2 linked regions of the Homo sapiens genome follow. The protein of the gene in region 1 purifies or fractionates together with the protein of each later gene. This does not show direct contact. Each region holds a gene or a part of one and is shown on either strand. Other genes may lie near its edges.

Region 1 (3,600 bases):
GCCAGTCATCAGCAGGTAATAGAAGAAGACGTAGCCCTTAAGTACTATGTCTCTGAAGAGTGTATAATAGCACAGAAGATGTCAAAATTATTAAATGAAAAAGCATAATAGCTTGTATAATGAGTATATTACAGCCAAATGAAACCTATGTTTTAAAACAAACCGAAAATAGATACCCAACATGTTAAGAGTGGTTATCGCTGTGTGATGTCTTATCTTTCTAAATTTTCTAAAATGACAATGCCTTGCTTTTATAATGGAATGAAAGCCCATTCAACTTTAACCTTCTTGAAATGGAACTGATTGGCTAGATTGACTTTGGGGAATTGGAAGCAGCAAATGGAGATGTTCTTCACAAGGCCAGGCAGTAACTCACTGGCAGCGCCAGAATTAGTGTTGACAGTCCCTGTGTTTCTGGGTTGTTTTCACTCTGAATCCAGCTGGCTCCCTAACTGTACTCACCCCTCCCCTGACACATACACATACACACACACAGATTAATGAAATAAGACAAGCTCCCCCTGAAAAAGTCACCTCAGCCCCTTATTTTCCTCAAGTGGTGGTGAGCCATATGCCCCAGTTCACACCCTTTTCCCTGAAGGTCTTAGTGGGCAGGAAGACAAGAGAATGTGAATACTAATCAAGTTATCTGTGGGAAGCAGTGCCCTTTCCCAGGGTGGTCAGTGCAGCCAGCCAACCACAAAGCCTAGGTTATCAGACTCAAACCACATAGATGTCAAGCAGGTCACCCCAACCTTGATCTCAGAAAATATTGACAATTTAATGTAATCACCATGTAGGTTTGTTTAAAATGAAGATTTATTACTAATTTAAAAGCTTGGTAGTCTAGTGTGGCCAAGGTCGTGAGGAAGCGGGAATGTAAATTTAATAGAGCCTGTTTGGAGAGCCTATAAAACTGAAAACATCACATCCTACGGCCCAGCAATTCCTCTTCTAGTCCTGTGCCCTGGAGAACAATCGAACATATGTACAGGTAGACACGATCAAGGATTTTCATTTTATTTCATGAAAAATTAAAAACTACCAATTGTCTCTCAATAGGGGAATGGATAAATAAAATGTCATATATTTATAGGATGAAATATTTAAAATTAAGATTGATGATTCATATGGCATATGAATCTATATGGATAGCTCTATAAAGGAAATAGATCTTTGGAATTTAAAAGAAGTATCTATAGATTTAAAGTTCCTGCAAGGATAGACATCAAAAACGTGTTGTTTAGGGAAAAGAGTGAGTTCTAAAATGACATCTGAAGTATGACACCATTTCTGTAAAAAAAAAAAAAAAACCAGACAGACTACAGCCATCCATCTTGTTAAGTGCAGATATATGTATGTAATAGCACAGGAACATTCTAGAAGGAAATACATTGAAATAATAGCAGGGGTAATATCTGAGGAAAGACAGAGGGGACTGGGATTGGGTGATACTCAGATTTTTCAAGGGAAAGTGGATTCCTGGGTTATTCATAATTATAAATATACAAATAGTTCATAATTTTTAAAGTCTCAGCAATTACTTTATCTGGTAATGTATTTATAATAAAAAGAAAGCTAAAAATATAGAGCTTTCTGTCGGAAAATGTTTCCCACAGCACCACACCCACCTTTCCACTCCCAGCACACCCTCTCAGCCAAGTTGGCCAGTATTGGGAGAAAGTGCCCCCGAAGCCTTTGCTCACCTTCACCACCCTTCTAGGAGCCACAGCAAATCACACTGGCAATGATCCCTTGCAGAAAAATTTGTGCCAGAAAAATTAGCTCTCAGAAGTGCCATTTTGTTGAAAAAAGAGCACATGAATTTTATCCCTTCCCCTGATGATTTTTGAGAGCAAAGTATTTTAGAGTTTGGCCCCAGCCAAACTAACAGGAGAGAAGGCAACTCCCCACATTTCATACCTGTCAAAAACCACTGCGGAATAAGCCCGCTCAGCAAAGATGATATCTGCAGCCCAGAACTCCTTGGTGGCCTTCAGACCCCTTCCTTTGCCCTCAGCGGTGAAGACCTCCACGTTCTCCATTCTCCCTATTGTCATCTCAGAGACTGTCAGGCCAGCGCGGCAGTTATTTAACACTGAGCCAAGTCTCTTGTCATTGCTATTTCAGCACCTTCAGCATCCCAAAGAGCAAGACTATAAATGGACAAGCCACCTCCCCTTCCCTACTCGCTCTCAGCTACTGGGCCCTCACCTCCCCCTCTGCTACTTTTCCTGGAGGTGGGGATGGGACAGACAAGAGAACAAGTGAACTGGGAAGAGTTTCATTCATCACCCAGCAAAGCCGACAGAACAGAAAATGACCATGGGTTAATATGGCATAGGGCCTGAAAAGTTTTGAGAGGTTCCATTGCAAGCAGAAGCTATCTGTATGTGCTAAGTTCTGAACTGCAACAATCCTGTTCGGCTTTAGTTGGAGTAGGGAACATTTGGTCAGGAGGGTATTTTTAGCAGCCAGATGCCTCTGTCAATCAAAAGCAGACAGCTGGAATGGTCCCATAGAAACAAGGTGATATTTGCTGCTCTGGGACCCTTCAGCTGTCAGGCTTGCACTTTCTCAAGTGAGATGGGCCCTCGCCCCACCCTTTTCAGTCTCTCTCCCAAGGGTGGACTGTTTAGCAGCAGAAGCTAAACTGAGGGCTGGGCACGGTGGCTCACGCCTGTAATCCCCACCTTGGGAGGCCGAGGCACATGGATCATCTGAGGTCAGGAGTTCAAGACCAGCCTGACCAACATGGTGAAACCCCGTCTCTACCAAAAATACAAAAATTAGCTGGGCGTGGTGGCGGGCGCCTGTAATCCCAGCTACTGAGGAGGCTGAGGCAGGAGAATTGCTTGAACCTGGGAGGCAGAGGTTGCAGTGAGCCGAGATCGCGCCATTGCACTCCAGCCTGGGCGACAGAGTGGGACCCCGTCTCAACAAAAAATTAATAAATAAATAAATAAATAAATAAATAAATAATAAGAAGAAGCTAAACTGAGCCCTTGGCATATACGTAACAGTACTATTTAGGCTCCAAGGGGGCATTTTTCCTCTCCAGTATCACCTGGGGCTCTTACAGCACCCCCTACTCCACAGCATGGAATTCCCTGTTCTTAGCACTGCTGGTGATGCTGGTATGCTGGAGGCAGGCTGGATACAGACAAGGCAGGCTATAAAAATAGCAACCCCCATCTCTATCTTTCTATCAAATTTCCTTTAACATGTGTCTGCTGCCAGGAAAATACCAACGTGCTCTGTCCTTCTTCTTACTCAGGAGTGAGGACACTGGAAAGACGAATCTAAAATCCCCGTTGAACTAAATGCCACTGTTCTTGGCTATCAGGCAGCTTTTACTGAGGTTTAAAAGAAATACACTTGCAGATCTGGAGCTCTGGCTTGACTTCCATGTAAGATTTTTAGTTCCTGGGATGCATCTATTTCCTGGTGGGGGTTGGGGGTGGGGGTGACGGCGGGGGTGGGGGGCAGTGGGCAGGGGCATTTCCTGGATTTTTCTGAGTGTATGGTTTCTGAGTCAGATGAATCTGAGTTTGAATTCTAAGCCTGCTACTACCACTTGAGATGGAACCTGTGAAACAA
Region 2 (3,875 bases), on another chromosome or scaffold:
CCCCACCTGCCTTCCCGCCCGCCTCCAGCTCCTGCAGGTCACATGCCTGAGCCTCACAGGCTCGTGGCTGTGGGATGCAGGCGTGCCTGCGGGCTCGGCAGTGTTCGACACATGTGCTGCTTGTCCTGTGTCACCAAATGGGCCTGCAGTCTGTTGTGGGCAGGAGGTAGGCAGTGGCTTCAGTCTTTCTCCTTCTCCAGGGAACCCGGCCCTGGGCCTGCAGTGCAGGTGCTCAGTTCTGTGCCCGGGCTCCTGACTCAGGGGGTCTACCCTGGCTCTGGGGACCCGCACTTCTAGGCAGTGGGGTAGAGTTGTCTGGGCCTGCCTTGTCTGTGGGGTGGGGCCATCCCCTCCAGAAAGGACAGTGTCCTGCCCTGAAGCTGGCTTTCGATAGGTCCACGTTCACCTGGAAGCTGGTGGCGCCCATGTCATGGTCCCCTGTGGCTTCTCCTGGGGATCACATCATCTCTCTGGACCAGCCCTCAACCCTCACTGTCACAAGGCCTCTGCCACAGGCCCCCCGCCACCACTTAGCACTCTCCCTGCTGACCCCCTGGTCCATTCAGCCCCTGGGTGGCCCCCACACAGTCTGTGACAGGGAGGAGGCTGGGAGGGGCACTGCCTCCCACAAGGAGCTCACGTTCTGGTGGGAGGAGGCCAAGAATCAGGACCAAGGAGAACTTCAGTGAAGCAAAAGAAGAAAAATGGAACAGGGGTGAAGGGGCTGGAGAAGCCTCAGGGAGGTGACAGCTGAAACCTGCACCAGGAGGGGCGGGGCCTGTAGTGGGCACTGGGCAGTAGGACCCTGTGGTGAGCCAGGTCTGCTCAGGTAACAGGAAGGTCGTTGGGCCACAGTGTGGTGGGGACTGCCCTGAGGCCGGGTGGCTGCAGCTGGGCCTGGTGTGGGGGTGGTGGCCTTGCCTGGGGGCCCCTGCAGGGCTGGCCTAGCAGGGAAGGTGTCCACACCATCTCAGCTCTGGGCAGGTGGGGTGGACCTGGGGCTTATCCACCGTCTAGAAACCACTTGGAGGCCAGGCAGCCTTGGCTACTGCTCTGTGGCTGGGCCTCCAGGGCCCTCCTGGTCATGCAGAATGGGGCAGAGCCGGAGCCCGTTGGGAGGGAGCCTGGGCTGTGCGCTCGGGGTACTGTGAAGTCCCTGGAGGCCTGGACCCCCATCCTTTCCTGGGTGGGTCAGGGACAGGGTGGGACAGGGACAGAGGGCAAGGGTGAGAGGGTAGAGAGCGGGCAACAGGTAGTAACAGCCGGCCCTTCTCTCCCAGCACAGCGACTCGGACTCCGACCCCGAGTACTCCACGCTGCCGCCATCCATCCCCAGTGCGGTGCCCGTGACCGGCGAGTCCTTCTGTGACTGTGCTGGGCAGAGCGAGGCCTCCTTCTGTAGCAGCCTGCACTCGGCCCACCGGGGCAGGGACTGCCGCTGCGGAGAGGAAGACGAGTGTGAGCGTGGGGCCCAGCCCCTGCTGGGACTGCACTGCGGGCGGGCCTGGGGGTGGGCAGGGCAGAGCCCCATGGAGCTCTCAGGGCTGCCCCAGCCTGGGCCTCTCTTGCAGATTTCGACTGGGTCTGGGATGACTTAAATAAGTCATCAGCCACCCTGCTGAGCTGTGACAACCGTAAGGTCAGCTTCCACATGGAGTACAGCTGCGGCACAGCGGCCATCCGGGGCACCAAGGAGCTGGGGGAGGGCCAGCACTTCTGGGAGATCAAGATGACCTCTCCCGTCTACGGCACCGACATGGTAAGTTGCTTCGGCCCAGGGTGCTTCTGGGGAACCTGGCTCCGGCAGCCCAGCCCCGCGCCCTCTGCCTGGCCCCTGTTCCTAGATGGTGGGCATCGGGACGTCGGATGTGGACCTGGACAAATACCGCCACACGTTCTGCAGCCTGCTGGGCAGGGATGAGGACAGCTGGGGCCTCTCCTACACGGGTGCGTGAGGCCCAGGGTGGGGCGGGGCCGAGCCTGGAGCTCCCGGGCTCACTGCGACCCTGGCTGCCCCCAGGCCTCCTCCACCACAAGGGCGACAAGACCAGCTTCTCATCGCGGTTCGGCCAGGGCTCCATCATTGGCGTGCACCTGGACACCTGGCACGGCACACTCACCTTTTTCAAGAACAGGAAGTGTATAGGTGAGGCCGTCACAGGACTTGAGCTCCTCTCAGCTGTCACCCCGAGGGAGGCAGCCACCCCGCCCCAGCCCAGGGGACACTGAGGTTTTCTGAAAGGGTTCCTCCCAGAAGCCTGAGGCCCCAGGGTCCCAGGGGGTGGGACAGTGAGGCCAGGCTGGAGTGGCAGGGCCAGCGCGTGCACCCTGCCTTGCCTCAGCTGTGCCAGCTGCCCACCCGGGTGACTGTAGCGTGAGGTCTGAGGGGCTGCGCCCAGTAGCTGGCCCCTTCCCTGCCTGGGGTTCAGGCTGGGCCCCTCCCTTCCAGGTGTGGCAGCCACCAAGCTGCAGAACAAGAGATTCTACCCGATGGTGTGCTCCACGGCGGCCCGGAGCAGCATGAAGGTCACCCGCTCCTGTGCCAGCGCCACTTCCCTCCAGTACCTGTGCTGCCACCGCCTGCGCCAGCTGCGGCCAGACTCGGGAGACACGCTGGAGGGTCTGCCGCTGCCGCCGGGCCTCAAGCAGGTGCTACACAACAAGCTGGGCTGGGTCCTGAGCATGAGTTGCAGCCGCCGCAAGGCTCCAGTGTCCGATCCCCAGGCAGCGACCTCCGCCCACCCCAGCAGTCGCGAGCCTCGGCCCTGCCAGAGGAAGCGCTGCCGCCGGACCTGACTGACTTCCCAGTGGAACTGCCTTCTTGGGCTGGGACAGCCCCTTTCCTCTGTCCCTTCTTTCTCTGTCCCTTCCTTCCAGCCACACTCCAGGGCGGAGTTGGATGAGGCCCGTCCGGAGGGAGCCATCTCTTGCTCCCGAGGCTGGGACAGTCCTTTCTGTGGGGGCTCTAGGGCCCCTCTGCTGCTGTGCTGGGTGGGGAAGCGGCTGCCCTGAGCCCCAGGTCTTGTGGGAGGCTGCGAGGACGAGAGCCTGGCTGGAGCCCGCGTTGCTGTTCCCACAGGGCCTCGGTTTTTCCTAACTTGCTCTGCATGCTGTCAGCGGCTGCCCCGCCGTCATAGACTTAAAGGACTGCAATAAATGTAGAGTTGATGTCTAACACCCACATGGCGTGAGCTGAAACGTATCCGTGCAGAGGCCGGGCTTGCGAGCAGCCTGGGCCTTCTCCCAGGCCTCACTGCCCCTCCACATCCTTGGGAGTCCCCTACTGCTTCTGGCTGAGGGTGCCACACCCCAAGCCTCCAGGTGGCAGTGGGGCCCTGGAGCTGCCTTCTGGTCCCTGCCGAGTGTGTGTGTGTGTTGGGGGGGCACAGCCCTGCTGCTGAGGCCTCCCCTGGGGCCTACGTGTTCAGGACTCAGCACAGGAACCGCCAGCCATCTGCCAGCCAGAAGCCCCTCTTCTCCCAGCTACCTAAAACTTCCCCTGCAACCACCCACCCTTCCCCTGAGGTCAGACCTGCTCAGCCAGAGAACCCACCCAGGCTGAGGGTCCACATGTGGCTGGGGGTCCTCCCCCACCGCCCAGGGTGTCTGGTCTGTCCCCAAGGCTGCATGCTGTCCTGGTGGTCCCACGTGTGGTCAGGAGCCCAGGTCCAGCAGGAGATCAGGGTTGGCTGTGGTCAGGAAGAGGCAGATGCGGCGGGAGAGGTCAGGCCCCACCCTGCGGGGACGCCCGCCTTCACTGGGCGGCACAGGAAGGTCGGCCAGGAGGCCCATGCGCTCCCGCTCCGTGCTGCAGGCCTCCAGCGCCTAGGAGCAGGCAAAGGCATGAGAGGGCGCCTGGGGACGGGGCTTCTGCA

The links.
Region 2: the proteins of SMYD1 (region 1) and SPSB3 purify together in Homo sapiens (affinity purification with mass spectrometry; 2 studies listed by BioGRID and IntAct, with this or other methods). This does not show direct contact.

Annotation. Positions count from the first base shown.
Region 1 is NC_000002.12:88,066,325-88,069,924, reverse strand, and holds the start of SMYD1 (histone-lysine N-methyltransferase SMYD1), read right to left. Parts: upstream 2,101-3,600; 5' UTR 2,061-2,100; coding exon 1,924-2,060; intron 1-1,923. UniProt on the Homo sapiens protein: Methylates histone H3 at 'Lys-4' (H3K4me), seems able to perform both mono-, di-, and trimethylation. Acts as a transcriptional repressor. Essential for cardiomyocyte differentiation and cardiac morphogenesis.
Region 2 is NC_000016.10:1,776,018-1,779,892, reverse strand, and holds the end of SPSB3 (SPRY domain-containing SOCS box protein 3), read left to right. Parts: exon of another isoform or gene 1-1,280; coding exon 1,281-1,458; coding exon of another isoform or gene 1,459-1,571; coding exon 1,572-1,759; exon of another isoform or gene 1,760-1,844; coding exon 1,845-1,947; exon of another isoform or gene 1,948-2,020; coding exon 2,021-2,146; exon of another isoform or gene 2,147-2,449; coding exon 2,450-2,796; 3' UTR 2,797-3,181; downstream 3,182-3,875. Other genes in the region: structure-specific endonuclease subunit EME2, read right to left, coding at 3,655-3,825.